6 separate regions of the Homo sapiens genome follow, and regions 1, 2, 3, 4 and 5 are each linked to region 6. Evidence: fine-mapped expression QTL. A gene starts in region 6. Each other region holds a variant in brackets. All regions are shown on one strand. Distances are from middle to middle.

Region 1 (5,243 bases), 22 kb after region 6:
GATTTGGGGTTCTACATGTATTAAATAAAGATTTTCTGCTGACTTGAAAAAAGTAAAACCAAAATTTAGAGATCTCACTTAAAAAGAAAGTAAAAGGAGCATCATCACAGGACCTTTTGGTTGATTTACAGAACGGTTCCTCAGGTTCCAGCATTTGTAAAATCCAGGTTGGGGGAGCAGCAAAGAGAAAATGAGGGCTGCCAGCCCCCAGTGTCCGTGTGTGTGTTTCGTTGTCATGAGCTTTGTCACAGGAGTTGTGCATGTATGTATGTCATAGAAGTTCAGGAACTTGTACGTGCTTGTCTTCCAGCTGGCTGCATGTCTGGAGGATCACGTGTGCGCTATAGCCATCTGAGTGCATTTCTGCTGTCTCAGCTTCCTGACCTGCAGGGTCTGATTTGTACTGTGGTGCTTTACTCCGTTAACATCCTGTTATCACTGTAGAAACATATATTTTTATCTCCAGTGTTGAATTTCTAAACTTAATTTACAATGGCATTCACCATAATGTCAAATATTTCTCCTTCAATAGAAAGGTCTTCTGAAATCTTTACTTTTGTTTGCTTGTTTTTGTTTTTTAGAGACGGGGTCTTGCTCTGTCACCCAGGCTGGAGTGCAGTGGCACAATTGTAGCTCACTGCAGCCTGGAATTCCTGGGCTTAAGTCATCCCACCTTAGCCTCGTGAGTAGCTGGGACTTCAGGCTCATGCCACCACACCCCAACTAATTCTTTTTTTTTTTTTTTTTTTTTTTAGAGATGGGATCTTACTGTGTTGCCCAGGCTGGTCTCAAACTCCTGGGCTCAAGTGATCTTCCCACCTCAGCCTCACAAAGTGCTAGAAATCTTTACTATGATTCCATGATTCTGCTGGAAAAAAAAATTAATTGAATTTAACTTTTTTTTTCTTTAAAGTAACTGTACAACGTATAGAACTAGTACATTAATAGCTATTGCTTCACTTTTCATTTATGTCCAGGGAAATTGAGAATAAAAATTGGCAAAATTCTGTTAATTGTGGAATAAATGAAGGCATGGTTTACAAAACGCTGTATAAATGTGTCTCCAGAGTTGCACGTATTAAATTGTGGTTTTAGGACATGGTCTTTTTTTTTTTTTTTTTTTTGAGACGGAATCTCGCTCTGTTGCCTAGGCTGGAGTGCAGTGGCTCAATCTCGGCTCACTGTAAGCTCTGCCTCCCGGGTTCATGCCATTCTCCTGCCTCAGCCTCCCGAGTAGCTGGGACCACAGGCGCCTGCCACCACGCCTGGCTAATTTTTTGTATTTTTAGTAGAGACGGGGTTTCACTGTGTTAACCAGGATGGTCTCAATCTCCTGACCTCATGATCCACCCGCCTCGGCCTCCCAAAGTGCTGGGATTACAGGCGTGAGCCACCATGCCCGGCCAGGACATGGTCTTCTTAAAATACTCCCTGACCTTGAAGTCAGTGCCCTAGCATATTTTAGTGTCTTCTGTTTTCTTTCTTTTCTTTTTTTTTGAGACGGTGTCTCGCTGTGTCACCCAGGCTGGAGTGCAGTGGCGTGATCTCAGCTCACTGCAAACTCCACCTCCCGGGTTCACGCCATTCTCCTGCCTCAGCCTCCCGAGTAGCTGGGACTACAGGCGCCTACCACCGCTCCCAGCTAATTTTTTGTATTTTTAGTAGAGACGGGGTTTCACCGTGGTCTCGATCTCCTGACCTCGTGATCCACCCGCCTCGGCCTCCCAAAGTGCTGGGATTACAGGCGTGAGCCACCGCGCTTGGCCTCTGTTTTCACATAGACAGTGATTTCACCATGGCTCACATGTCGAATGTAGGTGTCAGCTGCTATTTGTGCTGTTACGTGTTCATCACCAGCTTTCTGGAGACACAAACTCAGTATTCAATTATACACTTTTTTTTTTTTGAGCTTCCAGAGTGCTTATTGCAAAATAACAAAAAGATTTTAACTACCTGTACCATGGCAGACCTGTGCAGACCATCTCTCTGTTCTGTCAGCACCACTCAGCCACTTCATGTCACTGAACCTGCAGTTTTCCACCAGCTGCGGGAGGCCCAGCGGTGTCTTGCGTCCGGCAGGCCATGGCTTGGACCACAGCACAGCTCTCTGGCACACTGAGGGGCTGGCTGGACCACTGAGTGCTTCCCTCACACCTGAGTTCAGGTGTCTCTCTGTTCCCGAACACCGTGTGTGTGTCCCTGACAGGGAGGTGCCACAAACACTGCAGGACGGGGGAAGGGGGATGCCACCTGCCCTCAGATGTGCCACACGAGGAGGGACTGCCACGAGCATGCACACTGCACCTTCTAGAGCCTGGAGGTGTGAGTGAGAGGCTCCAGCTCAGCTCATTTTATTGCAGTGGTTAATAATAATACTTCAGGGTTTTTTATTCGAAAATATGTTTCTCACAGTAGTAGAAAGTGCCTTTTAAATGTTCAAATGTATCCTCAGGTATGATAGAAATGATTTCAGTGCACCATGACCTCAGAATAACTTGTGCACTTTAACACTACCATGGCTTTTTTCCTGGCGGTTTTAGGCTTCGAGCCCTGCAAGGGAGACTGGGTGGAGGCTGAGTACCGGATCCGGCCTGGCACGTGGAGCAGCGAAGCCACCTCAGTGAAGCCACTGAGATACAAGCGCGTGGACAAGGTAGCGTGCCGACTAGTGGCTCCTCTCTGTGCTTCTGGCAGACCTGCCATCAGGGGTAACTTGCACGGCCCAGGCTTCTCCTGCATGTGTTGGAAGCCTGGAAAAATAAA[G/C]CTTTGTCATGGCCAAAGAGGAGTGTGTTTTCCTATTGACAATGCTGTGTTTCGTTTGGAAACAATAACTCCTAGTGCTTGCATACCTGAATTCTAAGGTCTGTAGCTTATGCAACAGTGCTAAAATGTTCTAAGGAGAAAGGTGTGTTGGAGAATCACTGGACCAGTGCTACGGGATGGCGGACTTGAGCTTCCTGGTGCAGCTTGTGTGCTTTGGGCTGACTTGGGCGTGTGTTAGAGCTGCGCCCTGTCGTCATGCAGCATCTGCTTCCTGTGACGCTCAGCTCTCTGCTCCCAGGTCTGCATCTCTAGCCTCTGTGGAAGGAACGGGGTGTTAGAGGAAAGCATCTTCTTTACCTTGGACTCCTTGAAACTGCCAGATGGGTACACACCCCGGAGAGGTGACGTGGTCAATGCAGTGGTGGTGGAGAGCAGCCAGTCATGCTATGTCTGGAGGGCACTTTGTATGACCCTAGTGAAGAGGCGGTAAGAAAATGCTTTTCTGGCCAGGTGCGGTGGCTAACGCCTGTAATCCTAGCACTTTGGGAGGCTGAGGCAGACGGATCACCTGAGGTTGGGAGTTCAAGACCAGCCTGACCAACGTGGTGAAACTCTGTCTCTACTAAAAGTACAAAATTAGCTGGGCGTGGTGGTGCTCGCCTGTAATCCCAGCTACTCGGGAGGCTGAGGCAGGAAAATTGCTTGAACCTGAGAGGCAGAGGTTGCAGTGAGCTGAGATTGCGCCACTGCACTCAGGCCTGGGCGACAAGTAAAACTCCGTCTCAAAAAAAGAAAACGCTTTTCTTCTTTGGGATGTGAAAGGCCCCATATAAGTATATTTTGAAGAGTTACTTTAATAAGCCAAATAGTAGACATTTCAAGCCCTGAGTTGTTGGGGTAAGAGGAGAGCATCCCTAGCACTTCAGGAGGCCGTGGCAGGAGAATTGCCTGAGCCCAGGAATTTGAGACCAGCCTGGGCAACATAGTGAGACCCCATCTCTACAAAACATTAAAAAATTAGCCAAGCGAGGCCGGGCACGGTGGCTCACGCCTGTAATCTCAGCACTCTGGGAGGCCGAGGCGGGTGAATCATGAGGTCAGGGGATCGAGACCATCCTGGCTAACACGGTGAAACCCCGTGTCTACTAAAAAAATACAAAAAATTAGCCGGGCGTGGTGACGGGCACCTGTAGTCCCGGCTGCTTGGGAGGCTGAGGCAAGAGAATGGCGTGAACCCGGGAGGTGGAGCTTGCAGTGAGCCGAGATCGCGCCACTGCACTCCAGCCTGGGCGACAGAGCGAGACTCCTTCTCAAAAAAAAAAAAAAAAAAAAAATTAGCCGAGCATGGTGGTGTGCACCTCCGGTCCCAGCTACACACGAGGTTGAAGCAGGAAGATTGCTTGAGCCTAGGAGCTTGAGGCTGCAGCGAGCTGTGATCGTGCTACCGCACTCTAGCCTGGGCAACACAGCAAGGCTCTGTCTTAAAAAATAAAAAGAGAAAGGAAAAGGAGGCTGGTCATGGTGGCTCACGCCTGTAATCCCAACGCTTTGGGATGCTGAGGCGGGTAGATCATGAGGTCAGGAGTTCGAGACCAGCCTGGCCAATATGAAGAAACCCTGTCTCTACTAAAAATACAAAAATTACCCGGTTGTGGTGGCAGGCACCTGTAATCCCAGCTACTTGGGAGGCTGAGGCAAGAGAATCACTTGAACCCAAGAGGCAGAGGTTGCAGTGAGGCGAGATTGCACCACTGCACTCCAGCCTGGGTGACAGAGGAAGACTCTGTCTCAAAAAAAAGAAGACTGTCTTGCCGGGCGCGGTGGCTCACGCCCGTAATACCAGCACTTTGGGAGGCCGAGGTGGGTGGATCACAAGGTCGGGAGATTGAAACCATCCTGGCTAACATGGTGAAACCCCATCTCTACTAAAAACACAAAAAATTAGCCAGGCGTGGTGGCCGGCGCCTGTAGTCCCAGCTACTCGGGAGGCTGAGGCAGGAGAATGGCGTGAACCCAGGAAGCGGAGCTTGCAGTGAGCCGAGATCGCGCCACTGCACTCCAGCCTGCACAACAGAGTGACACTCCATCTCAAAAAAAAAAAAAAGACTGTCTTTTGGAAGCTTTCAGCCATCTCTATGGTTGACTGAAGGTGGAGTTAGGGGTCGCTCTTCATCCTTCATCTTACATTGGTGATTGCTGTTTTGGGTGGATTTTTCTGTTTTGTTGTTTCACATTTTGGCATTTAAAAAATGCATTGGATGTAGTTGGTTCTTAAAATTATTGGATTTCTGGCTGGCCACAGTGGCTCACGCCTGTAATCCTAGGACTTTGGGAGGCCAAGGCGGGCGGATTGCCTGAGCTCAGGAGTTCGAGAACAGCCTGGGCAACACGGTGAAACCCCATCTCTACTAAAATACAAAAAATTAGCCAGGCGTGGCAGCGCACACCCTTAATCCCAGCTACTCTGGAGGCTGAGGCAG
Region 2 (5,243 bases), 23 kb before region 6:
TCGGGACGAGGAGACGCAGGGAAACCCACTCCTGGCCATGGCACTACCCAAAGCCAGTGTTATTCTCACACCCAACTGTCCCTGCAGCCTGGCAGGTGGGCAGTGACCGCCTGGGCTGTACCCTAAGACCCCAAAACAGCGGAGATGGAGAAGACCGCTGCCCTGGGGCCTTCTCAGTGAGGATCAAGACAAAGTACTTGCTAGGAGGTAGAGGGCGCTGGGTGAACCTGTGAGAATTCCTGGGCTCTGACCTGATCTGTCCTGCATTTTGAGTAATGGGAGCAAACACAGGAGGGAGGGGCTCAGCTTCCCCCGGTCACTGGGGCCAGGGAGACGTGGTCCAGCCGGTTTACAAAGCCTTGGATGCAGCCCCACCCCCAAGAACACTGCCTGTCACAGCAGCGGCCACGTGGCACTCCAAGCTGGGCATGACAGTGCCCGGGACGTGGGCAGCGGCCATGTGGCACTCCAAGCTGGGCATGACAGTGCCCGGGACGTGGGCAGCGGCCACGTGGCACTCCAAGCTGGGCATGACAGCACCCAGGACGTGGGCCGGCCAGTGTGGCGGTGGATCCCTCTAGAATGACTGGGTCTAAGTAGGGAGACAGGGCAGGCGACCCGGCGTGGACTGGTGTGGATTTCACCTGGGAGAGCAGCGGCAGCCTGTGTCGCTTGCGCCCAGGCTCTGGAGGAGGGGCCCCTGCGGCTCCCGGGCCAGGACAGAGGCGCCCAGCCCTGCTCTCACTGTCCAGGAAGAGCCGCTGGGCAGCCTGAGCCTGGGGCAGGTGCACCTTGCAGGGAAGTGGGTAAGATCCCACTGGGCTGACTGAGTACCCGGGACAGACCCTAAGCGTGGAGGGAGGAAGCCCGGTCAGAGTGGGCAGGAGACGCAGGGACCCACAGTCTGGTCAGGTCCAGAGAGCCCACTCCAGCCCAAGCCATGAGAGAGGCAGGAAGAGGAGCTGGGGCCAGTTCAGGGGTGGGGCTCTCAAGAGGCCGAGCCGGGGGCCCTTCCTCGGCCTGGGAAGTTGCGGCCATGCTCCTGCTGTTACGACACGGGAGCCACTCGGAGCTGACTGATCTCACTGAGGCACAGACTAGCCAACATTGGCCTATTTTAAAATTAAACTACCCTAGGAAGTGAAAACCCCACCTGCAGCCTGGTTTGCCCTCACACAAGGGAAAAGAGGTGTTAGAAGCAGTAGCTCAGGGCGATTAGGGGTTGTGCGTTTCCATGCTTGGGGCCAGGCTGGGCGCTGCCACCCGGTTTCCGCGTCTGGGGGTCACTGGGCCATTTGCACCACGACGGCTCTCCAGGCTTTCTCCTTGTCGAACTCCTTCAGGGGGCTCCTGGCCACCTGCAACCGAGACAGGAAAGGTGTTACTTCACCAGGGCCACCTGTGCGGCGGGAAGGTGGACACGCCACTCGGCCACAGGCAGCGAGCAGCCAGCGTTCAGAAGTTTTCTTCGAATGTGAAGGAAGTGGGGAAACTAACCCCTGGGCCTCTGTGGAAAGAGATAAAAGCCTTCACTTCCTCAGTGTCCCAGAAACGCCTGCATCCCCCCCCGCACACACGGTTTCTACCGAGCCTGGGATGGAGCAGCCCTTCACTCGGCCCCTTGCCCTGGCTCTGGGGCGGGGAGCGGGGGGAGGCCGCCCAAGGTTGGGCATGTGCCTGACGGCTGAGGAAGAAAACACTTAAGGCAGAGGTAACCAGATGCCTCCAGGCAAAAGGGAGGACAGCGCCAGCCCCAGCTGTCCACCCTGAGCCCCAGTTGTCCACCCTGAGCCCCAGCTGTCCACCCTGAGCCCCAGTTGTCCACCCTGAGCCCCAGCCACCCACCCTGAGCCCCTGGGCCCCAGCCGTCCACCCTAAGCCCCAGCCATCCACCCTGAGCCCCAGCCGTCCACCCTGAGCCCCAGCCGCCCACCCTGAGCCCCAACCGCCCACCCTGAGCCCAAGCCACCCACCTTGAGCCCCAGCCGTCCATCCTGAGCCCCAGCCGCCCACCCTGAGCCCCAGCCGCCCACCCTGAGCCCCTGGGACCAGCAGTTCTGGGATCTGGGGAGAACACCTCATGCGTCTGACTCTGGGCCTTGCTGGTCACAACAGAAACCCAGGCGGGTCTCATTTCAGGCCCAGGGACTGCCGTCCTAGCAGGGAGACTGACCACAGCCAGGAAAAATGGCAGCAAAGCAACTGAGGAGGCAGGTTAAGGGAACAGCAGTAGGGAGGGTGGAGGGTGGGGGCGACGGGGTCAGCTGAGAAACGAGCCAAGGGCAAGAGAGCGTCCTCCGGGACTTAGCGGGCACTGGAGGCTCTGCACCAAGGTTCTGAGGCCGGTGGTGTGCTGAACACAGGAGGGCAGGGTGTGCAGGGCAAGAGCAGCGGCCGGTCCGCCCAGG[A/G]TGGCCTAGAGGTGGGGCAGGACTCAGAGCCCCGCTGAGTGGCTGCCCAGGTGTTTGGGCATCAAGGTGACAGTCCTAGTGGTCACTGCACCTGAGGGTCAGCGGGCAGGTTTGCCCAGGGGAGCACCACCAGGACCCGTAGCTCGGTGGGGGGAAGACGCTGAGCCTCTGCCTTTCAGATGTGGGGGCAGCAAGACAGTAGGCAGGGCCCGGGGGAACATTGTTCAGGCAGTGACAGCCAGAAGTTGTTGACACCCCAGCTTTACGGAGCCCCATGTGCCAGGCTGGGTGGGCATTGCCTTCCCTGCAGAACCGCGTCCCCACCAGAGACCAGGGAAGGAAACTTCAGGACCTGTGGGAGTCCTCACAAAGCCCTCTTCTGTGTCTCTAAGAGCAAATCTGAAAGCATTAAGTCCAGAATATTTCCCAGGGATGGGTCTGGGTTTACCCAGGCTTTGTGTTTGTATTTTTAAAAGACATTTTACGGCTGGGCGCGGTGGCTCACGCCTGTAATTCCAGCACTTTGGGAGGCCAAGGCAGGCGGATCATGAGGTCAGGAGTTCGAGACCAGTCTAACCAACATAGTGAAACCCCATCTCTACTAAAAATAGAAAAATTAGCTGGGCTTGGTGGCGGGTGCCTGTAGTCCCAGCTACTCGGGAGGCTGAGGCAGGAGAATTGCTTGAACCCAGGAGGCGGAGGTTGTGGTGAGCCGTGATCGCGCCACTGCACTCCAGTCTGGGTGACAGACTGAGACTCCTTCTCAAAAAAAAAAAAAAAAAAGAAAAGAAAGACATTTTACTTCTTCGGGGTTTTTCTGGGGTGTTTTTAAAAATACAAAGTGGCACAATGAATCTTCGAGGGCCACGTCGTGTGGCCCTCGGAGGCCCTCACCAGGACAGGAGCCCCCACCGCAGGCCTCTCACCTCCCCAGCGGGTGCTCCTGTGGGCCACTCACCTCCCCAGCACCCCTGAAACCCACAGGCCTCTCACCTCCCTGGCTGAGCACCCCTGTGGGCCACTCACCTCCCCAGTGCCCCCACCCCACAGGCTTCTCACCTCCCTGGCTGGGCCCCCCATGGGCCACTCACCTCCCCAGCACCTGCACCGCAGGCCACTCACCTCCCCGGCTGGGCACCCCTGTGGGCTACTCACCTCCCCAGCACCCCCTCCCCCTGCAGGCCACTCACCTCCCCGGCTGGGCACCCCTGTGGGCCACTCACCTCCCCAGCTTCCCCCCACCCCACAGGCTTCTCACCTCCCTGGCTGGGCACCCCCGTGGGCCACTCACCTCCCCAGTGCCCCCTCCCCCTGCAGGCCACTCACCTCCCCAGCCAGGCGCTCCTGCGGGCCGTTCTGGGTGTCCCAGGATGCACCCTGCAGCCTTGCACTGACCTTGAAGCGCACGCACTGGATGGCGGTGCCCGTGTTGAGGCCGGCCTGCAGCAGGAGCACTAGCAGCAGCAGCAGCAGCAGCACATCGTAGGATGGCTGCAGGCGGAAGGAGGTGTGAGCAGAGTGGCCCAGCCGCCCTCCAGCCCAGGAGACCAAAGCTCCCTCGTGCCCACGGCCTTCACAAAGAGCAGGTGCCAGGGCTCGAGTCGGAGCCCCAGTAACCCAAACGCATTGCTATTTCAACAACCTGATGATAATCATTCTAGCTCAATTAATGAGGTCAATTCTGCTTTAAATTCCATCAGCTTGTGTTCAACATACAGGAATAAAAGTGACCGAGCCACTGCCAGGCCCCGTGGACAGTGCTGGCTGCTAGTGGTCAAGTCGCTCCACCCCTCCTGCTCCAACACGCGCAAGGCTCAGTCCCAGAGCCAGAGAGAATGTCCGCGGGAGGCAGAAGCGCTGACCGTTCCGTGTCAGCAGGATCCTGAGCGGAGGAGACAGGGGGCAGCCGTCCTGGGGGGATGGGGTGCACAGACCCCCAACAGCTTCACCCCTGAGCACCAGCTGCTAGGAAGGAAGGGGCAGGAGGCAGCGCGGTGAGCTCGGCAGGGAAGAGGATGGAGGGAGCGGCCGAGGATGCAGGGGGCCAGAGAGTGACCACGGAGCACCCAAAACCCTCTGTGCCCATGGATAGCTTTCCCGTGTTGGCTCAAGAAAAACAAAGCAACTAAATGTTAACACACAAAAGAGCCAAACATCTATCCAATGTCACTGCTACAAAAAGTAAGAGAAGAAACAGAACGAACAGCTCTTCTCAAGTTAACATAAAACTTTTTTTTGCGACAGTCTCCCTCTGTCACCCAGGCTGGCGTGCAGTGGCGCGATCTCGGCTCGCTGCAACCTCTACATCCCAGGTTCAAGCGATTCTCCTGCCTCAACCTCGCCAGTAGCTGGGATTACAGGTACCCGCCACCACGCCCAGCTAATTTTCGTAGTTTTAGTAGAGACGGGGTTTCACCATGTTAGCCAGGCTGGTCTCCTAACCTCAGGTGATCTGCCTGCTTCGGCCTCCCAAACTGCTGGGATTACAGGCATGTGCCACTACGCCCGGCCTGGATTTTAAGTAATTATTAGAAAGTCTGGTACTTGTGTTCCCAGCTGGAGTTTACCCTGGAGGATGGTAAAGGCATGGGCCCCATGTGGTCTTTGCTCTTCGGTTGTTGAGACACCATTTATTGCAAAGCCTATGCTTTCCTCAGTCTCAAAAAAAAAAAATCCAGAGCCATTAAAGAAAATATTAATCAACTTAACTATTTAAAAAAATAGCTTTCACATAACAAAAATCACAACAAGCAGAACAAGAAATAGCCGCCAGGCTGAGACCACCATTTGTATCCTCCATCACAGATGGAGCTGGTCTCCCCCGGCACCAGGGTT
Region 3 (5,243 bases), 49 kb after region 6:
TTCACACCTGTAATCCCAGCACTGTGGGAGGCCAAGGCAGGCGGATCACCTGAGGTCAGGAGTTTGAGACCAGTCTAGCCCACATGGGGAAACCCCATCTCTACTAAAAATACAAATAATCAGCCGGGCGTGGTAGTGGTCACCTGTAATCCCAGCTACTTGGGAGGCTGAGGCAGGAGAATTGCTTGAACCCAGGAGGCGGAGGTTGCAGTGAGCCGAGATCACGCTACTCATTCCAGCCTGGGCGACAGAGCAAGCCTCCGTCTGAAAAAAAAAAAACCAAAGACAGTTTTACTTCTTCTTCTCTTATTTGGATGCTGTGTATTTGTTTTCCTTGCCTTCCTGCGCTGGTTGGAACTTGTGTGCCAGTGTGGAATAGAAGTGGTGGCAAGTGCTGCACTGGCTTTGTCCCTGGTCTTAGGGGCAGGGCTGTCAGTCCTGAGCGAGTTAGTACAGCGTGGGTGGTAGGTTCCGTAGTGGCCCTCTATCAGGTTGAGGAGATAGATTCTTATTTTAGTGAGTTTTTAATCAAGAATGGATATGGGGCCAAGTGTGGTGGCTTACACCTGTAATCCCAGCACTTTGAGAGGCTGAGGTGGGAGGATCACATGGGCCCAGGAATTTGAGGCTTCAGTGAGCTCTGACTGTGCCACTGCACTCCAGCCTAGGCAACAGAGCAGAGTCTCTAAAAAAAAAAAAAAAAAGAAAGAAAGAATGGGTGTGGGATTTTGTCCCATGCTTTTTTTTTTGGCTTCTTTGGTATTCTCTAGTGGTTTTTACAAAAATTTTTTTAGACAGAGTCTCACTCTGTCACCCAGGCTGGAGTGCAGTGGTGCCATCTCAGCTTACTGCAACCTCTGCCTCCCAGGTTCAAGTGATTCTCATGCCTCAGCCTCCTGAGTAGCTGGGATTACAGGCGTGCACCACCACTATGCCTGGCTAATTTTTGTATTTTTAGTAGAGGCAGGGTTTCATCATGTTGGCCAGGCTGGTCTCGAACTCCTGACCTCAGGTGATCCACCCACCTCGGCCTCCCAAAGTGCTGGGATTACACACGTGAGCCACCGCGCCCGTCCTCTCTAGTGTTTTTCTGTTCTCTATTTCATTGATTGTTGGATTGTTGCTGTGATTTTTTTATATTGACTTAAAGATTGTATCATAAAATTTTCATTACCTTATGCCAGCCTTAATATTTCTGAATGTAAGGTTAGTTATTTTATGTGGTTTTCTTTCCTGCAGGACCACAAGCAGACGGTGTCACTTTGCACTTGAACACGTCATCCACTTAGGTGTAAAAGGTATTACTTTTATAGAATGATAGTGTTACATCTTCACAGAGTATTTTTATAGGCTTCATGTAAAATTTTGTGTAAAATAGTCTCTTCAGTCATAATATTAGAAGTAAAACTTTTGTTATATTCATGTTTTTAATTTTCTATCAAGTTTTAGTGTTTTCTTACTATTTCAACTTAGTGAATAACTAATAATAGCATGCTTAAATAACCGAAAATAAATTTATCTTGCTCGCTTTTCCCTTCATAAATGTAATTTATGAATTTTTACAGATGGGCAAATAAAGGGCTTTGTTGTGAAGAATATGCAGTACTAATAATGCTATAATTTAGAAACAGTATAACAGGCAGGTTAAGAAAGGAAGGGAATAGAATATTAATTGCTTTAGGGTCAGCCATAAACAACCTCTATTAATATTTTTTTAGCTTTTTAGTTATACCCGTGCTCTTACCATTTTTTGTTTTAAAAGTGTTGTTTCCAGAAGAAATTATTTTACAGTCTCCACAAGTGACGGGAAATTGGAACCATGCACAAGACACCAAAAGCAGTGGACAGTCCACCAGCAAAAAGGTAGTGCTCAGCAATGTGGCTTTCTCTACACAGGGGATGGCTCAGCGACGTGGCTGTCTTTACATAGGGGGTGGCTCAGCGGCGTGACTGTCTCTACACAGGGGATGGCTCAGCGATGTAACTGTCTACACAGGGGGTGGGCGTTTCCTTCTCGGAGTATTAGCGCTTAGTTGACTGGAGTATTAGAGCAGTGTGGTTCACAAATAACTCAAAATTGCAGTTAAAATAAAGTGAACTAAAATATTCAAAAATAGATTTAGTGTAAAGTTTATATGCAAGGGCTAAGATGCAGGGCTAAGATGGCTACAATATATTAAATAGGGGAAGCAAAGTACAGATGTTTATATGACCTTAGAGTTGGGTTTTTTCTTTTTCTTTTTTCTTTTCTTTCTTTTTTTTTTGAGACAGAGTCTCGCTCTGTCACCCAGGCTGGAGTGCAGTGGTGCAATCTTGGCTCACTGCAACCTCTGCCTCCCAGATTCAAGTGATTCTCCTGTCTCAGTCTCCAGAGTAGCTAGGACTACAGGCATGTGCCATCACACCCAGCTAATT[T/G]TTGTATTTTTAGTAGAAACAGGGTTTCACCATATTGGTCAGGCTGGTCTCGATCTCCTGATCTTGTGATCCACCCTCCTCGGCCTCCCAAAGTGCTGGAATTACAGGCGTGAGCCACCACACCCGGCCTTAGAGTTTTATTTTTAAATTATATGGTTTATGTGTACACTTAGGTACATTTATGTGATTGTGTATGCATGGAAAATGTCTGGAAGGATACACACCCCGCAAATTGTTAACATTTGCAAACTTTGTGAATGTTGCAAAGATATTTTATAAAAACTTCTAGGCCGGTCGCAGTGGCTCACGCCTGTAATCCCAGCACTTTGGGAGGCCGAGGCGGGCAGATCATGAGATCAGGAGTTCAAGACCAGCCTGGCCAAGATGGTGAAACCCCATCTCTACTAAAAATCCAAAAATTAGCCGGGCATGATGGTGTACACCTGTAATCCCAGCTACTCAGGAGGCTGAGGCAGGAGAATCACTTGAACCCAGGAGGCAGAGGTTGCAGTGAGCCGAGATCACGCCACTGCACTCCAGCCTGGGCAATAGAGCGAGACTCCATCTCAAAAAAAAAAAAAAAAAGCTTCTATAATCCAGTCACTCCATAAATAGTAATATAGTGCCTATTACATGCCAGGTATTGTCCTGGGCTCTCAGTATATTTTTGTGAATACAATAGAAGTGGTTTTATTTATCTTCATGTTTCTAGTAACAAGAAAATCATCTGTGTCATGGTGGAGCTTACAACTTATTTTGTGCTATTCAAATTTGGTTTTATGAGCATGTTTTCAATGTATAACATGAATTTTTAAATTATATCTAATACTCAAAAATGCTCACCATTTTATAGTTCCTCCCCCAAAATGCAAAAATGATAGGTTTAGAATGCCTATACAATCATGGAAAATACGACAAATGAAGCAGCAAGAGGTTATCCTTGAAAGTCATCTGTGGCATATTTCATAGTTGATCTCTTTTTTGTTCTGCAAATAGAAAAGAGTCTTCCTTGGACAGTGCTTTTCTTCTCCGTCATCACCTCATTACTGGTTCATTCTACTGCCTGATTCTCGGGGAGAGTCTGTGGTGCAGATGGCATGTGAGATCAGGGAGGTGTTACTATTTAGGTGGGCACATTCCTAATTGACTGTAGGTTTTAAAACCTGAAACTTTATCTTCTTATGGATTAACTAGATTGAAAATAAACTCAAGAATATTTCATATGTCAACCAAGATAGAATTTCAGGGACCAGATTTATCTTCCTTCCTGAAACAATAAAAAATCAGACAAACTATATGGAACAACAATTTCAGACATTAACATCAGCTATCATAGGACAGGGATTCCTGAGAGAGGAAACAAATGAGGTGACCTCATGGTTTTCCCAACTCACAGCCTTCCGAGAGTGTCTAGGCCAGAGAGCACCAAGAGGGAGCCCAGGCGGAGTGCAGTGACCTGAGTACAGAGACAGCATTTGGAAGGGTGGGGAGGACAAGGGGGATAAAGCTGACAGAGTAGAGTGCTGGGGAGAGGGCAGGGGACAGAGAGCAGCTGGGCACCTACAGAGATTCCTTCTTGAGTTTTCAGCTGAGCATTGATCAGTGCATGATGTGAGTAAAATACCCAGGCCTGGAAAAGAACCAGCTGGAAGGAGGAGCAAGAACAATCCTTAAAAGTTGACACAGTGCCAGAAATAGCTGTGCCCACAGCCAGAGAAGAAAAACCTCGTAATTCACATGTAGAATCCATGGGAGGGTGTTGTCTCAGGAGCGTAGAAAGTCCAGCCTTTGACTGAAGGCTGCTCCGGCCCAGACTGACAAAGTATGATAGCCTCAAAAGAAGCAAGCTGTTCCCAAATAATTGGATTACATCCCAGAACAAAGTTTAAGAATATTTATAGGAATATAAAATTATCCAGCACCCAGCAAGGTATAAAATGGACACTGACATCTGGTTACAAAATGAAAAAGTGAAAAACGTAACCCAAAAGGAGAAAATTTAGTCAATTGGAACCAACCCCCCCGAAATAACATGGTGGAATTAGCAGACAAGGACATTAAAACAGTTATAAATATGTTCCATGTGTTCAAGAAAGTAGAAGACATGAGCAGGTTAAGTGGAGACACGAAAGATATATAAAAGACAATTTTATCTTCTAGGAATGAAAAATTCAATGCCTAGAATGAAAAATATATTGGACAGAATTATCAGCAGACTAGACAATGCAGAAGGAAAAATTAGTGAACTTGAAGACGGAGCAATAGAAACTATCTAACATGGAACAGAGGCGGAGGCTGCAGTGAGCCGAGATCGCGCCACTGCACTCCAGCGTGGGCAATAGAATACAGCAAGACTCCATCCCAGAAAAAAAATTAGCTGGGTGTGGTGGCATGTGCCTGTAGACCTAGCTACTCAGGAGGCTGAGGCAGGAGAATCGCTTGAAACCAGGAGGTGGAGATTGCAGTGAGCCAAGATCATGCCACTGCGCTCCAGCCTGGGCGACAGAGCAAGACTCTGTCTCAAAAAATACATATGTATATACACATATATATATTTTATATATATACATATATAAATATACATATTTTATATATATACATATATAAATATACATATTTTATATATATACATATATAAATATACATATTTTATATATACATATATAAATATACATATTTTTATATATACACACATATTTTATATACACATATTTTTATATGTATACATATATGTATCTATGTATATGACACATGTATATGAGACCAAGAGGGTTCATCCCAGGAATGGCTTAACATTCCAAAAATAAATGTGTAATATACCATATTAA
Region 4 (5,243 bases), 32 kb after region 6:
TTTTTGAAAAACTTAAATCTGATTAAATCACAGCTCATCAACATCAAGCTGTGGGTGGCAAGTGCACAGTCAGCTGTGTGAGGTGCAGCCAGCTTCAATGCTTTTTTTTTTTTTTTGACATTATGACAACATAGAAACAGGTTTTTTCAAAAAAGCCATAGGTGCTAACACAGTGAAACCCTGTCTCTACTAAAAATAAAAAAAATTAGCTGGGCGTGGTGGCGGGCACCTGTAGTCCCAGCTACTCAGGAGGCTGAGGCAGGAGAATGGCGTGAACCTGGGAGGCGGAGCTTGCAGTGAGCCGAGATCACGCCACCGCACTCCAGGCTGGGTGACAGAGCGAGACTCCGTCTCAAAAAAAAAAAAAAAGCCATAGGGGGGCACAAAGTGTAGTGTGGATGATGTAGCCCCAGTTAGAGCCACAGCGAGGACTGGGCAGAAAGCACATTAGATATAGTACCTATTTTTGGTCATGTCATAAAATTCTGACTTAAAATTGGGAATATCAAAATTTTTTCCTACTCTTATATGTGTTAGGATTACAAAAAAGACTATTGTAGATGCTTACTTTTTTTTTTTTTTTTTTTTTTTGAGACAGGGTCTCACTCTGTTGCCCAGGCTGGAGTGCAGAGGCATGATCACAGCTCACTGCAGCCTCCACCTCCCTAGGCTCCCACCTCAGCCTCCCGAGTAGCTGGAACCACAGGCACACGCCTCCATGTCCGGCTAATTTGTGTATTTTTTGCAGAGACAGGTTCATCCTATATTGCCCAGGCTGGTCTCAAACTCCTGGGCTCAAGCGATCTGCCCGCCTCAGTCTTCCAAAGTGCTGGGATTACAGGCCTGAGCCACCGCACCGGGCCTGTAGGTGCTTAATTTTATCTTGAGAAAATATTAATTACATAGCTTATTTTAGAAGATCTCTTTTTTCTCTGTAAAAAGAATTATTGAAGACTAAAGATGAGTCTTAACTCTGTCACTTTTCTTGTATGTACAAAGGAAAATTGTGTTGACTGCCTATCTTATTTATGACTAAAACTAAATTTCATTTTGTTTTTTTCAAGAAATCCTGGCCGCTGCAAGGAGCTCCTTTTGCTCTGTTTTTCCGATTTCCTAATTGGGCGATACCTTGAAGTAAATGTTATCAGTGGGGAGGAGTCACTAATTGCTGCGCGCGAACCATTTTCTTGGAAAAAGCTTAAAAGTTCACAAGCGTTAACATCCGCAAAAACTACAGTTGTTGTGACCGCACAGAAAAGGTACCATAACTGAAATGAGTGTGGCTCTTGGTCTGGCAGTTTTATCTGTGAAGGAAAAGCGGACGTGCACTGGCAAGCGGTGGCTACCACCTGGCTGGGGAGGTATAAAGGGGATGAAGCTGGGGTTCAAGCCTCTTTCCATGATTGTATTTGGGGGATGGAGTGCATTTCCACGGAGCTCTGAAGGTCAAGTTCTGTCTCTGCAGCTGCCCAGCAGCAGCGTGAAGCCCAAGGAAGACGGCCTTCACTCCCCCAAGCCCCACTCTGCTCTGGCAGTTCCAAGGTGGCTCTCAGAGCAGGCTGGCCTCACCCAGCTCCTGCCACCTCTCCCGTCCTGACGAGGCCATGGTGTGTAGTGCACGGCATCCCCGTGTCATTCGCACTGGGGGCAACAGGATTGTGGGGTCACCTGAAGCCTGTTTGAAGATGTGGTACCACTTAAGAATGGAGTTAGGAGAAGCAGTGTGTGATCTGGGACTTGTGGCTGGGGAACATAGGGACCACCCAGATTTTAACTGGAGGGTAGTCTCAGGAAAGCACTTCACATCCACGTGTTCTCTTCTGTAGTTATAAAACGAAAAAGCCCTGAATAGCAGGCTTTTTAAAGTGTAATGACTTAGTCCCGTGTGATGTGACTTTTCCTCCATCGGCTATAATAACTGATGGGTTTGAGCTCTGCTACTACCCCAGACCTCCCTGAGGGTGAGGTGGGTCACTTTTCTAATACTGAAAGATTCTGAATTTCAAATCACGTGTTGCCCCAGTTACAGTTCAAGATGAGGGATTATGGACTTCTACTTAGTTGCAGACTAAAGGGAAAACCTGTTACCAGGGAAGAATATCATGTGGTTGTTTACCTTTTAAGGTTAGACCATTGTTTGAATCACAGCACCACCACCAAGAAGCTGTGTGACCTTGGGCAAGTTTCTTAACCACTCTGAGCCTTGTTCTCATTGGTAAAATGATAGTCCCTGCCTCGTGTGGTTTGAAGATTGAATGAGGTCAGACATGTAAAATGTGCAGTTTTCTGGCACAAAGCAATCACTCAGTAAGCGAATAAGCAGTCATGATCCCTGGGCATATTATTATTGAGAAAAAGGGGCTCACTGCCTGATGCACTAGGGGCCATTGCTACGACAGTGGGTTTCTGAGAAAAGAAAAGCTTTGTATTGAAAACCAACCCCCAAGGAGACAGGAGTCAAGCTCAAATGTGTCTCTCTGTGCTGGCTTTAAGGCAGTAATTTTGTCAGAAAACGTTTAGTGGGTAGAATCTGGGATTAATAGGTGGTTGGTGGAAGGAAAAGGGAGGTCTGGAAAGGCCTTGGGTGTGCATAGTTACCCCTTCATGCTACCTCATGGGTCACATGTGCCAGTTCGGAGGGAGTTCGCATGAAACACGGTGGGAATCCAGGCTGTGACGTCAGTAAGCTCTGCACAAACTCCAGTTGTCCATCTTGGTTCCAGCTGATCTCAGCCAGTCCTTTGATGTCATAAGCAGGGGGAGACTCAGCGCTGGAGTTGTTTCTTATCACCCATCCTGCAGGCTCAAGAATTTCTGTTAGTCATCGGTTTCTTTAACTCTTTGGGGCACAGTTTCAACATCAAGGGGCTGTAGGGATGTAACCCAGAAAAGGAGCAGGAAAGTCCCTCGGCTGCCAGGCAGAGCAGAGTCCCCGAGGATCGAGTTTTAATGACAGGAGCCTTGGAGGATCCCTGGTTCTCATCTAGTGACACACCAAGCAGCTTTCTAGTTATCATTTGGCTTAACAGAAAGAGTGAAATACACAGAGCAACAGCCACAAGGATTTTA[AC/A]CCCCTGGTCAGTTACTTCCCCGTGAATATTAACATATTGTGTGGGAGCGTATCTAAAACAAGGACATCAGTTTCCTGCCACTCAGGTTAGTGACCCAGAGTGCCTGACCCGGGTTGGCTCGAGCACACCTGGAGCACCAGGTGTCTGGACCTGCCCACGCGGGCATTGGCGGGTGCCTGCTTCCAGAGCTGTCCATCCGTGGCCGCCTGTCACAGGTCCTGCACTTCCTGCTAGGACCCCCAGTGCCAGGCAACTTTGGCTCTTAGCTAGAGCAGAGTGTTCACTTAGCAGATCTGTTCTGGGGGGCTTTGTAGGCCAGCACACTCCCAGCCAAGTTTCTAGCCACCCATCATGGTAGGAACCACATTTTGTTAATCCAGCGTGTCTGTTGAGGCCACATGGTTCTGTTAGCTGTTCAGGCTGTTGACCTAAGCCTGTAGTGATCATCCTGGTTTCCCTTTACCTTGTTCGTGTTAGTAATCAATGCTTTCCAAATACACCTCGCATGTGAGCGCTGACATAACCCTCAGCACAAACCATGGGGAATGTCTTCACCCCGTTTCTCCTGTTGAGGGCTGAGCCAGTGGAACCCAAATTGAGATGACAGTGAATGGAATACGGAGAGCAATGTGGGCTTCTCTCTTGGGTGAGACTGCACTGAAATGGAGAGCTGGGAGGGAATGAGGGATAAAGGTCCAACCAACATCCTTATTTGCTGAGTTGAGTTTTATCGACCTCACTCTGACTTTTCGTTTCCCTGTTCTCTCCTGGCTTCTCCTCTCCTGTCTGTCCCTTTCCCATTGTTTCTGTTGCCGCATTGGGCTTGGCTCCAGAGCAGCGATGTTCTTCATCCTGAACAAACTGAATTTCCCCAGAGAAACCACAGGCTGGGAAACAAAACAAAAACAAATCGAAGGCAGGACCCAGACAGAGCAGCCTTTTCCTAATGTGTGCTTTGCAGGGATAGGCCCAGGTGGAGTCCTGATGTCAAATATAGTAGGAAGAGCTTAGCTCATAGAATGTTAAAAACAGCTGTTTCCAAACTCCTGGTTCCAGGAGATTCTGGGGGTTCCAGCCCTGTTTTCCCACAGCCTGTGCAGCTACACTTACCTGTTTACAAATAGTAGAGCACTTGTGGGAACTGTTTGAGGAAAGGATCCCAGAGCTAAAACGAAAGCTTCAAACCACTGCCTTAGACCAGCTATTCATATATCAGTTCTTCTCAGGAAATGGATGGACTTTGGTCTTCCTAAAATAGGAAAGGATGTTTAGGTAAGAATGTCTAGTGATACCTGGTGATAAAGACTTATTTTTAACTTGTGAACTTAATTTTTTAAGGAACTCAAGACGACAACTTCCAAGTTTTCTTCCCCAATATCCAATCCCAGATAGACTTAGAAAATGTGTGGAACAAAAAATTGACATCCTGACTTTCCAGCCATTACTTGCAGAGGTAGGAAGTGTCTCATGGCCTGTGGGGTGTTGGCATCTTCTAATGCTCTTGTTTTCTGACAAAGCCAGGAGGTTCCTTCTCAGGTTCAGACCTTCATCTGGCTTGTTTTCTTCACAGGTAGCTGGGATAACGAGGGTCACTGCCTGGCCGTGAGGGATGAGGCACCATAGCACTCACGCTGCCAGACCTGCTGTACACCAGGGGCTGGCATCCCACAGCCTCACTGGGGGTCACGCACAGGGCCTTTGGGGTCTGGAGCAGAAGAACTGAGGGATACCTCTGCCATCAGCCTGGCCTCTCTCGCTAGACTAGGAGGCCTTTGTTATGAGCAAGAAGTGTTCTAGCCTTTTACCATCATCCTGACAGAGCCAGCAGGGCAAGGGTCCAGGGGAGGAGAGCCCAGGTCCCCACCCACATGGGAGACAGAGGAGCACGTTCTGAGTGGGGTAGGTGGAGAAGAAAAGTTCAAGAAGGAAGAAAAGTCTATAAATTTGGCAGTTTGAGGGGAGAACATTGCCCTTTGTCCAGGAGGGTTTTTTTCTGTAGGGGTTTGAGGTGTTCTGAGAGTCCCCAGCTAAACTGGAGTTCCAGTGCCAGAGCAGCTGGCAGCCCTGTCCTAAGGAGAATGAAGGGAATGGGACCTAGGTGTTCACCATGCGCCCTTCAGGGGATCCTTTCCAAATACACCTCCTTGTTTAAAAAAATGTCCTTGTTTTACC
Region 5 (5,243 bases), 84 kb after region 6:
CAGGGATGGTGAGAGCATGGACTGGCCGAGCACTTCTGGAAAGCATGGAGAGGCACCCATGCGAAAGCAGAAAGTGCATCTGGAAAACAAAGGCAGCCACCCAGCAGCCACACTCGGGTCGCTCGGAGGGGCTGGAACTCACTGCACTGGGTTATCTGGGAGTGACTGAGTTGTCGGGGAGGGGGGGTGACTTGGTTATGTGAGGGGTGGCTGGGTTCTCTGGGGTGATGGTTATCTGGGGGTGACTGGGTTATACGGGATGGGTTATCTGAGGGGTGCCTCGGTTATCTAGGAGATGACTGGTTTATCTGGTTACCTGAAGGGTGACTTGGTTATTTGGGGATGATGATTTTATCTGGGATGACTGAGTTATCTGGGGGTGACTGAGTTATCGGGTGAATAGGTTATGTGAGAGGTGACTGGGTTATTTGGGGTGACTGGTTTATCTGGCAGTGACTGGGTTATCTGGGGTGAATAGGTTATGTGAGGGGTGCCCGGGTTATTTGGGGTGATTGGTTTATCTGGCAGTGACTGGGTTATCTGGGGTGAATAGGTTATGTGAGGGGTGCCCGGGTTATTTGGGGTGATTGTTTATCTGGCAGTGACTGGGTTATCTGGGGTGAAAGGTTATGTGAGAGGTGACTGGGTTATTTGGGAGGTGACTGGTTTATCTGGCAGTGACTGGGTTATCTGGGTTGAATAGGTTATGTGAGAGGTGACTGGGTTATTTGGGAGGTGACTGGTTTATCTGGCAGTGACTGGGTTATCTGGGGTGAATAGGTTATGTGAGAGGTGACTGGGTTATTTGGGAGGTGACTGGTTTATCTGGCAGTGACTGAGTTATCGGGTGAATAGGTTATGTGAGAGGTGACCGGGTTATTTGGGAGGTGACTGGTTTATCTGGCAGTGACTGGGTTATCTGGGGTGAATAGATTATGTGAGGGGTGCCCGGGTTATTTGGGGTGATTGGTTTATCTGGCAGTGACTGGGTTATCTGGGGTGAATAGGTTATGTGAGGGGTGCCCGGGTTATTTGGGAGGTGACTGGTTTATCTGGCAGTGACTGGGTTATCTGGGGTGAATAGATTATGTGAGGGGTGCCTGGGTTATTTGGGGTGATTGGTTTATCTGGCAGTGACTGGGTTATCTGGGGTGAATAGGTTATGTGAGAGGTGACTGGGTTATTTGGGAGGTGACTGGTTTATCTGGCAGTGACTGGGTTATCTGGTAGGGGTGACTGTTATCGGGGGGTGAGTTGGTTTATCTGGGGTGCCTGGGTTGTCAGGGTGACTGGGTTATCTGCCAGGGCTGATTTATCTGGAGGTGCCTGGGTTATTTGGGGTGACTGGGTTTATCTGGGGTGACTGGGTGGTTGGGTGCTGGGATTGGATGTAGCTGAACTGCCTGCCTCAGGATGAAGTTTGCTGGAAGTCAGGGGCTGGCATCCCTCAGAAAACATGCAAGGATCTTTAAAAACGCAGACGGCGTGAAAGCTCAAAGCAGACACATCCCCTACGCAGCCCAGGGAGGCAGGGGGACCTCCTGGTTTGCTCACAGCAGTGGCCGGGCCTGTGAACACGGGCTCAAAATACATTTTTGGAATGAATTATTGAATGAACTTAAAACTCCAATCACACTAAATCTTTTATATGAAAGATCGTGCACGTTCGTCCTGGTATAGTGGGAAGGGGACCTGCACGAGGGAAAACGGCTGCCTCGAAGAGGCAGGGACCACGCGGGATGCGCCCGCGTCTGAAGCCAGACCCCCGGCTCCCCGAGGGAGAACAGGACGGAGGGCGGGGCTGTGGGGAGCGGAGGGAATGAAGGTCAGGGAGGCGGCGGGGACCCCCTGAGCTGGCACAGGCCCCGGGAACGTCTGTGGAACAGGGGACGGGATGGGGCGTGGGGGAAGGAGGTGCGGGCTGCAGGAGCGGGGGTGATGGGGTCACTCACGGCGGCGGGACTGGGGGTACTGGGTGGGGGGGTCGGGTGGGGCCGGGGCTGCAGTGGAGGGTGTGGGGCGGGGAGATGCCCTCATTGCCCGCGCACTGGCGCCCGAGCCCAGAGAAGAGAGCGCCGGCTTCCCCGCCAGTGGCCGCAGCACCCCAGGAGCGCGGGAACCTCCGGACCCACAGCGGGGCGCGGCCGGGGCAGGTGGGGGGCCCAGGCGAGGAAGCCCCCTCTGCGCCCTGGGCTGGGCGAAGGGCCCTGCGATGCGACGGGGGCAGCCCCAGCGCGCGCCCAGTCCTCACGTCGCCACCGAGCGGCGCCCCCGCCCCAGCCCGGAGCCCCGCAGGGCCGCCCCCACCCCTGCCCACCCTCCCGCGGGCCGGGGCAGCCCCCCGCCAGCCACCCCGCGTTCCCAGGAAGAGG[G/C]ACCGGTCATTACTCATTCATGTCCTTTCATTTCATTTCAATATTTTCTGCAAAGTCATCGCCCGCGCCGCATCTGCGTGGCGGGGGGCGGGGTGGGGCGGAGCCACGCCGCGGAGTCGCCGCAGGTAAACAGCCCCCTCCCCGCGGCGGGAGCGGGGCCGCCGGCCCCAGGCAGGGACAGCAGCCGCCGCCCGCGCTCCGGGCCGGGATCCCGCCGCCGCCCCCGCCGGAGGCACGCGCCAGGGCGGGGGCCGGGCTGCGGCGGAGGCGGGCGGCTCCGGTGCCCCCCGCCGCCGCCCCGGCCCGGCCCGCCCGCCCCCTGACCCCGGGGGCGGCGGCGGAGCGCCCCCCAAACCCCGCTGCGGGCTCCGCGCCCGGCCAGCCCCGCACCCGCCGCGCGCCTCCGGCTACTCCCATCCCCCGGAGCCCCCCGCTCGGTCCCGGCGTCCCCTGCCACCCTCTCCCGCGGCCCGCGGCCCCGTCCCCGTCCCGCGCCCCCACGCTCCCCGATCCCCGCCCCCGCGCCGCGCGTCCCCTCCCGCCCGCGCCCCCCTCGCCGGGCCCCGCCCCGCGCCCCCCGCCCCGCCCGCGCCCCCCGCCGGGCCGCGCCCCCCGCCCCCCATGCACCACCTCCTGGAGCAGTCGGCGGACATGGCGACCGCGCTGCTGGCGGGAGAGAAGCTGCGGGAGCTGATCCTGCCGGGCGCGCAGGACGACAAGGCGGGCGCGCTGGCCGCGCTGCTTCTGCAGCTGAAGCTGGAGCTGCCGTTCGACCGGGTGGTCACCATCGGCACCGTGCTGGTGCCCATCCTGCTGGTCACCCTGGTCTTCACCAAGAACTTCGCAGGTGAGGCCGGCGGCCGGGGCGCGGGGCGCGGGCAGAGGGGGCGTCCGCAGGTGTCCGGGAGCTGGCGCTTCCCGCGTCCCCGGCGGCTCCGTCCAGCCGCGCCCACCGTGGCCTGGCTGCGTCCGCGGCGTCCCAGGCACCTTCCACAGCCGCCCCCATCCTAGCAGGTGTCGCTGGTCGCACAGACCCCTCGTCTCTATTTTATTGTTGTTCTTCCTTCCATTCGTCCGCCCATGGCCGCGGGTGGGACTAGGCCTGTCTGGACCCAGGGGTCCCAAATGTCATGAGACACGGGGTCTGGTTTGGAGAATGTCACAAGCAGCGCCTGAGGGGATGCAGGGTGGCCAGGTGGGGACCAGGAAAGGCCGGGATGGGTGTTGACAGCAGAGAGCTGATTACAGGGGCTGGTGGAGCTGCCGGGCAGGGTTCCCAGGCTGGACTTGGGTGGAAGGAGGGCAGAGAGAGTCTCTGAGAGGCCCAGGCCCTCCACCCCTCAGGCAGGGCGAGGCCTCTCCGGGTGCACTGGGGGCCTCCGAAGGTTTGAAGCAGGGGGGCTAGCATGGGGCAGGGCCACGTGTCAGAGCAGGGAGCCTGGAGCTCCTGCAGGGAGATGGGGGCTGGACCAGGGCAGGGACCCGCGCTGGTTAGATCAGGACCTGTGGGGGCACTTGAAGCCACCCAGGCGAGGCAGGAAGATGGACAGAGCAGCCAGCCTGCCTGTGAGCCTCTGCGGGGTGGGGTCCTGGTGCCTCTGCCCTCCCCAAGGAGTGGGGCGAGACAGGTGGAGCCGAGAACTTCCTCCCCTGGGGTCTGGGCCAAGGCAAGGGGGATCAGGGTCTCCTGGCCTGTGTGGCCCAGAGGTACTAGTCTGCAGCGGGGAGGGGTGTTGGGACCCTGGGGCCCTCTCTTCTGCAGCCTCCAAACCTCAGCAGACCCTGCCTCAGCACTGGCGCTTCCCAAATCTCCCAGATGCCTTGCCTTAAGGAGTCCCCGTGGCCTGGAGACACCAGGCCTGAGGGTGGACATTGGCCAGGCTGTCTGATCCCACCCAGGGGTGGAGGAGGCCTCTGCTGGTCTCCTCTTCGACACTGGAGGCCAGACCCCGGGGATTAGAGGACCCCTGGGGTGGGCACACAGCACACTCTGCAGAGCAGGGAGCCCAGGCGTGCGGTGGGGCCTTGGGGCAGGCCCAGCATGTCCAGACACCACGTGTGTTCTCTGTGTTTGTAGCAACCAAGTACCGCAAACTAGGCAGTTTCAAACAGCAGACATTTATCTCTCATGGTTCCGGAGGCCAAAAGTCCAAAATCGAGGTGTCGGCAGGGCCCTGCTCCCTCCCACAGCTCTAGGAAAGGGACATTCCAGCCTCTTCAGCCTCTGGTGCTGCCGGCAATCCTTGGGCGCCTTGGCTCGTGGCCGTGCCACCAGTCTCTGCCTCTGTCTTCTCATGGGCTTCTTCCCTCCCTGTCTGTGTCCAAATTTCCTTTTTTTTTGAGACAGAGTCTTGGTATGTCGCCCAGGCTGGAGTGCGGTGGTGCGATCTGCAACCTCCACCTCTCGGGCTCAGGTGTTCTTCCTGCCTCAGCCCCGAGCCCCCAGTAGCAGGGACCACAGGCATCCCACACCACACCCAGCTAATTTTTGTGCCATGTTCCCCAGGCTGGTCTCAAACTCCTGGGCTCAAGTGATCCTCCCATCTCAGCTTCCCAAAGTGCTGGGACTACAGGCGTGAGCCACTGTGCCCTTTTCTCTTCTTCACCACCCCCCCGCTTTTTTTATTTTTATTTTTTGAGACAAAGTCTCGCTCTGTCACCCAGGCTGGAGTGCAGTGGTGCGATGTCGGCTCACTGCGACCTTTGCCTCCCGGGTTCAAGCGATTCTCCTGCTTCAGCTTCCCAAGTAGCTGGGACTACAGGCACCCGCCACCACGCCTGGCTCATTTTTTTTTTTTTTTTTTTGAGACAGAGTCTCGCTCTGTCACCCAGGCTGGAGTATAGTGGCGCGATCTCTGCTCACTGCAAGCT
Region 6 (5,243 bases):
AGGGGTGCGGTGGGGAGGGGGCTCTCTCTCACGCACAGCACCCCCGGGGTGAGTCTGAGGGGAGTCAGTATCAAAGGTCACTGGGACCCAGGGTCCTGGCAGAGGAAGCGAGGTCTGGGGCAGAGGGGATCTGGCCTGGGCGGGGGAGGGGCTGCGACCAAGTCCAGGGCACCAGGTGGAGGAGGGCAGAGCCCGGAGATGGCCACCACCACCCGGGAGCCGCCTCTGTCCCCAGCTCCGAGGCAGACGCCTGTCTTGGTGGGGCATGCTCAGGCCACGGGAGGTGGGCAGGACCACTGTGGGTGCTGCAGGGGCTGCCGGCGGAGGCCAGGGCACAGGGAGGGGAGAAATCACAGCCTGGATCTCATTCTCAGCCCAAGCTACACGGAACCGGGGGTCCCTGCATAGAGGCCTGTCCTGCAGCATGGCTCTGAGCAGCTGCACACACTCAGGCCCAAGTGGCTCCTCCAATCATCTCTGTGCCCACGACTGTGCAGGGAATGGCCAGGACCCCAGGGAAATCCCTCGGACATCTGGCGCTGCCCGTCCACCCCAGACCTGTTCCTTTGTTCCCCAGCTCCCTCCCAGCCGGCCCCTGAGGCCCTCCCTAGGAGGAGGAGGTCCCTGAGGTTCTCTCTGTGAGGGCCGACCTGAAGGCCTGAGACGCCTCCTCCCACCTTTGCAGGTGACCCCTCAGAGGACCCTGGGCCCCCAGAGCCGAGGGTCATGGAGACTCCTGGGGCCCATTCATGGCCCTGGGACTGTCCCTACCCTGGTGGGACTAAGCCACAACCTGGAGCAGCTCAAGGCTGGCACAACAGACACCCATAAATTAATAAAAATAATTGTGAAAACACAAGCAAAACAAGCTCGTCGGCATCCAAGAGTTCTGCAGCAGCAGGGTTAGTCTGAGAGTTGCTCTCTCTGTCCCACCTGGGGCTCCAGGGCGCTGCAGTCCGTCACCAGAGGGACCAGATGCTCGTGGCCCTCCAAGGGCTTAGTGTGGAGCTACTCACCCCCATCAGCACAGAGAAGACCCACGTCTTGTGGCTGAAGCAGGGGGGCAGTCTCTTCGACAGCTGCAGGTCGCTCGGCTTCGCGTCTGGGGCATAGCTGGCGGGGTCTTGCCGGCCCCGCTCCAGCGTGGGCATCCGGTCATAGGCCAGCTCCTCTCTGAATGGCTCCTGGGTCATGGCACTTGGGGACACCACAGCTGTGCTGAATGTACAGCCACGTGTCACCAGTTCTTTATCTGGAATAAAATTATCATCGGCTTTGGCCACTCTGAGGAAACTTCAATAAGTTGTTTCCAAGAAATATTTTTTAACAAAAGAAATATTGTTCATACTGAAGTGCTCTAAATTTGAAGAAGAAAATGAGCACTTGAATCTAAAAGTGAAAAAGAAATAACTTTCCTAGAAAAACGGACCTGAATAGTCTGGGTTCAGGGTGAGATTCTACACTTTAAATGCCTCATTGATCCATCTGGGCCCTCCAGGTGCAACACCTGACAACATCCATCGGCAACTTCGTCCATGAACACATCACGCCGGGGACTCAAGCACGTTAAACTGCTCCAATTGGTAGCTAAACGAGAGATTGCAAAACATGCCTCTACTCAACGGCTTAATGTCTGAGCACTTACCTCCCCCGCTGCTCTGCCGTTGGGAGCACTGGTCTCTGGGTGAGGGACTTCCAGCAAGAAGTATTCACAAATGAAACAAAAGCTCAGCAAACTTGAGCTGAAGGCAGGGGAAGGAGAGCTGCTTCCTGAATATCAATGAGGGGAGGAATCGGGTGGATCGTAGAAATGTTTCGTGTTGGTTGTGTAAACCACTGCCTCGGAGCTGTCAGAACCCAACTAGGAAAGGAAGGGGCCCTGCCTGTGCCACTCGCCACAGAGCTCGGGTCTCTCAGAAGAAAGAAGCGTCCCTAAGAATAGAATCCCACCAAGTACACATTCTGAGCAGGCTCTGTTTCTGAAACGTAACTGTTTACTCGAAGGTCTTCTACATCTTTCCAAGTAGCCTTTTTCCATCCCCCACAGCCACACGGTGGGAACCTCCTTCACACGGTCACATAAGCATTCACGCACTCGGCTTAGCTGTGTGGCCTTGGGCGGCTCCGGATTCGGCCCTGTGGTTTGCGTGGGCAGCCCGGATGGCTGGTGGGCCCGGTCCTGCTGCCCCCTTTATCTCTGCTCACCAAGCAGAGAAAAACCACAGTAATGTGTGTCGCCCAGAGACACTGGCACCCTGACAACTACAGCAACGGGTTCTTTGTGCACATTGTAAAAAGGCTCAAACTAAAGTTTCTGAAAAACCAGCTCCTTAAACCATGAACCCACATTAAAACTTGAGCAAAGTCATCAGGTTCCAGACCATGGGATGTTCTGTTGTCTTCGTTTCAATCAAGCAAGAAGCTTTTAGTAAGCTTTTATTAGCTTTTAGTAAGTTTTTATTAGCTTTTAGTAAGATTACACATACAAGCATCCCTGTCCCAGTGAAAATGCCCACTAAATCACCTCGATCAAAATGCGTAAGTGTCAAGTACGCATAAATGCAGCTCAAAACACTTTGCTCAACCTCACCCCCACAGGAAACAGCAGTGATAAATTTTTAGCAATAAACGAAAGTTTAAGCTATACTAGTATTTTAGGGTTAGTTAATTTTGTGCCAGCCACCACAGCCAATGTTCTGTTGTCTTCATTTCAATCAAGCAAGGATGAGAAATAATTTTCAAAAACTATAATCTGTGAAGTCAAGAACTCATTTTAATGGATTGAGAAACCTCCCAAACTTCACTATCTTTTAAAGCGATAAACGGGATTAGTGGGAGTGGGTCCAACTGGATCGAATCCTCCTGTGTTTCTTTTTGTTTGGAAAAAAATGTTAATCGGATTTCAACATTTTTTTCTTTCAAAAGTTGCTCTCCACTTAGAAATACAAACAAGCTGCCCTGAACCAGAGGTTGCAGAGCAAATCCCTCAGCTTCCCAGATCATAAGTCATCACTTGAGAAATGCTCCCAAGTTTCTGTTGGCAACACTAGTTTCTAGAACAGGCCCTGTTCTTTCATACAATCTTCCAACAAATTCTTGCTCCTAAAATGCCCTTCATCCCTCTGCCTGCTGATGTCCCATCATCATTCAACATTCAACAAACATTTATGGGGTGGACAAAGAAGTGACGTCCTTCCTATAGGCTGTTTACATTCATTGGGGGCACAGGAGTGCACAGGATAAACAAATTAGTGTGTTATACAGTGATATGGTTTGGCTGTGTCCCCACTCAAATCTCATCTTGAATTGTAATTCCCATAATTCCTACATGTCGTGGAAGGGGCCCGGTGGGAGGTAATTGAATCATGGGGGTGGTTACCCCCATGCTGCTGTTCTCCTGACAATGAGTGAGGTCTTATGAGATCTGATGGTCTTTTATAAGGGGCTTTCCCCGCTTTTGCTCAAGACTTCTCCTTCCTGCCACCTTGTGAAGAAGGACATGTTTGCTTCCCCTTCCACCATGATTGTAAGTTTCCTGAGGCCTCCTCAGCCCTGTGGAACTGTGAGTCAATTAAAGCTCTTTCCTTTATAAGGACTTGACTCTAAAATTACCCAGTCTTGGGTATGTCCTTATAGCAGCGTGAGAACAGACTAATGCATCCAGTGACACACATGATTTCCTCTATGAGGGAAAAGAAGTCAGGGGAGAGAAATGAGGGGCTGCTGTTTGCAGGGGCCAGGGCAGGCCTCAGTGAGAAGGAGGCAGGGAGGGGAGGCTGGCAGAGTTGAAGCAAAGGCCACAGGTTGGGGAAGGCAGGCGAGGACCATGCAAGGGGGATACAGGTAGGACAGCCAGGTGCCAGCACCTGTGGGTATGGAGACGACTCTGCTTCAACTCTGAGACAGACCTGCTGGAGGGGTCTGGGCAGAGCAGCATCCGGTCACTCACTGGGTGGAGAGCAGGCTGGGGGGTGGGAGGAGCAGGTGCTGCCTGGCATTGAGGTGGCAGTGGGCAAGTGGTGAGGAGGGACTGGGCTCTGAACAGGGTTTGAAGAGCGGACGCAATCTGCTGTCAGGGCGACGTTGCTGAGTTCTGTCTGAGCAGTGAGGACAGAGATGAGAAGACCAGGGTGGAGCAGGTGTGGAGCGAGGATCTGGAGTTCCATTCTGGACATGATGAGGCCGAGATGTCTGTGGGCATCTGCCGGGTCTACTGAGTCCAGAATCCCAGGGAGTGGCCCGAGCTGGGGAGCTGAGGGGCAGCCCTGCAGGCACAGCACCCGCTGCGAGCTGCCCTGGCAGGGAGCCCATGAGCCACCAGCCCTCATGCAGCTCGCTCTTGTTTCCAAGCTAATCTCCCACCAACCAGTAGGTCCCTGGGACCCTGCTGGCTCCTGTATGTGTTCCAGCACCCAGCCCAAGACACAGGCTTAGCGGGGATTTGAAATGCTAGGGAGTGCGCCACTCTCTCCCTTCCCACAGCAAGAACTATCAGTACACTCTGCATCCATGGACAGGCAAGGTCCAGGCTGTCATCAGACTGACAGATCTGACCTAGGAAAATAAAGCTATGTCAATCAAAAATAAGTCGGGGCTGGGCGCAGTGGCTCACACCTGTAATCCCAGCACTCGGGAGGCCAAGGCGGGTGGATCACCTGCGGGTCAGAAGTTCGAGACCAGCCTGACCAACATGGTAAAACCTTGTCGCTACTAAAAATACAAAAAAAAAAAAAAAAAAAAAAAAAAAAAAAAGCCAGCGTGGTGGCGCACGCCTGTAATCCCAGCTGCTCTGGAGGCTGAGGCAGGAGAATCACTTGAACCCGGGAGGTGGAGGCTACAGTGAGCTAAGATCATGCCACTGCATTCCAGCCTGGGCGACGGAGCAGGACTCCATCTCAAAAAAAAAAAAAAAGAAATAATAAAAAACAGAAACCACTGGAATAGTAAAGATATATATACGTATTTTGTTTTTGTTTTTGTTTTGAGGCAGAGTCTTGCTCTGTCTCCCAGGCTGGAGTGTAGTGGTGTGATCTCAGCTCACTGCAACCTCCACCTCCTGGGTTCAAGTGATTCTTCTGCTTCAGCCTCCCAAGTAGTTGGGATTACAGGCATGCGCCACCATGCCTGGCTAATTTTTTTTGTATTTTTTTGTAGAGACAGGATTTTGGCAGGTTGACCAGGCTGGTCTCGAACTCCTGACCTCAAGTGATCTGCTCACCTTGGCCTCGCAAAGTGTAAAGATA

What was found.
Region 1: its variant is fine-mapped to the expression of MLC1 in whole blood (TOPMed, PIP above 0.99).
Region 2: its variant is fine-mapped to the expression of MLC1 in whole blood (TOPMed, PIP above 0.99).
Region 3: its variant is fine-mapped to the expression of MLC1 in whole blood (INTERVAL, PIP above 0.99).
Region 4: its variant is fine-mapped to the expression of MLC1 in whole blood (TOPMed, PIP above 0.99).
Region 5: its variant is fine-mapped to the expression of MLC1 in unexposed skin (GTEx, PIP above 0.99). The same link has a PIP of 0.9 or more in sun-exposed skin.

The regions. Positions count from the first base shown.
Region 1 is chr22:50,105,596-50,110,838 of GRCh38, forward strand. It overlaps MOV10L1 (Mov10 like RNA helicase 1), which reads left to right. Exons shown (of 27, transcript NM_018995.3): 4 at 2,541-2,653; 5 at 3,062-3,249. Among named protein-coding and RNA genes, the nearest start is that of MOV10L1, 18 kb to the left of the region's middle. RefSeq lists an enhancer at 228-337. The variant G/C (reference allele first, on the strand shown) is at 2,764.
Region 2 is chr22:50,060,300-50,065,542 of GRCh38, forward strand. MLC1 (modulator of VRAC current 1) reads right to left here. Exons shown (of 12, transcript NM_015166.4): 11 at 3,735-3,899; 12 at 1-1,358. The coding sequence ends at 1,284. Among named protein-coding and RNA genes, the nearest start is that of TTLL8, 4.6 kb to the left of the region's middle. The variant A/G (reference allele first, on the strand shown) is at 2,409.
Region 3 is chr22:50,132,768-50,138,010 of GRCh38, forward strand. MOV10L1 (Mov10 like RNA helicase 1) reads left to right here. Exons shown (of 27, transcript NM_018995.3): 14 at 1,240-1,298; 15 at 1,763-1,863. Among named protein-coding and RNA genes, the nearest start is that of PANX2, 35 kb to the right of the region's middle. The variant T/G (reference allele first, on the strand shown) is at 2,416.
Region 4 is chr22:50,116,093-50,121,335 of GRCh38, forward strand. MOV10L1 (Mov10 like RNA helicase 1) reads left to right here. Exons shown (of 27, transcript NM_018995.3): 9 at 1,065-1,259; 10 at 4,410-4,524. Among named protein-coding and RNA genes, the nearest start is that of MOV10L1, 29 kb to the left of the region's middle. The variant AC/A (reference allele first, on the strand shown) is at 3,070.
Region 5 is chr22:50,167,738-50,172,980 of GRCh38, forward strand. It overlaps PANX2 (pannexin 2), which reads left to right and starts at 2,994. Exons shown (of 3, transcript NM_052839.4): 1 at 2,994-3,219. The coding sequence starts at 2,994. RefSeq lists a silencer at 2,168-2,227 and an enhancer at 3,827-4,519. The variant G/C (reference allele first, on the strand shown) is at 2,373.
Region 6 is chr22:50,083,710-50,088,952 of GRCh38, forward strand. It overlaps MLC1 (modulator of VRAC current 1), which reads right to left and starts at 1,717. Exons shown (of 12, transcript NM_015166.4): 1 at 1,646-1,717; 2 at 1,017-1,252. The coding sequence starts at 1,193. RefSeq lists an enhancer at 1,365-1,989.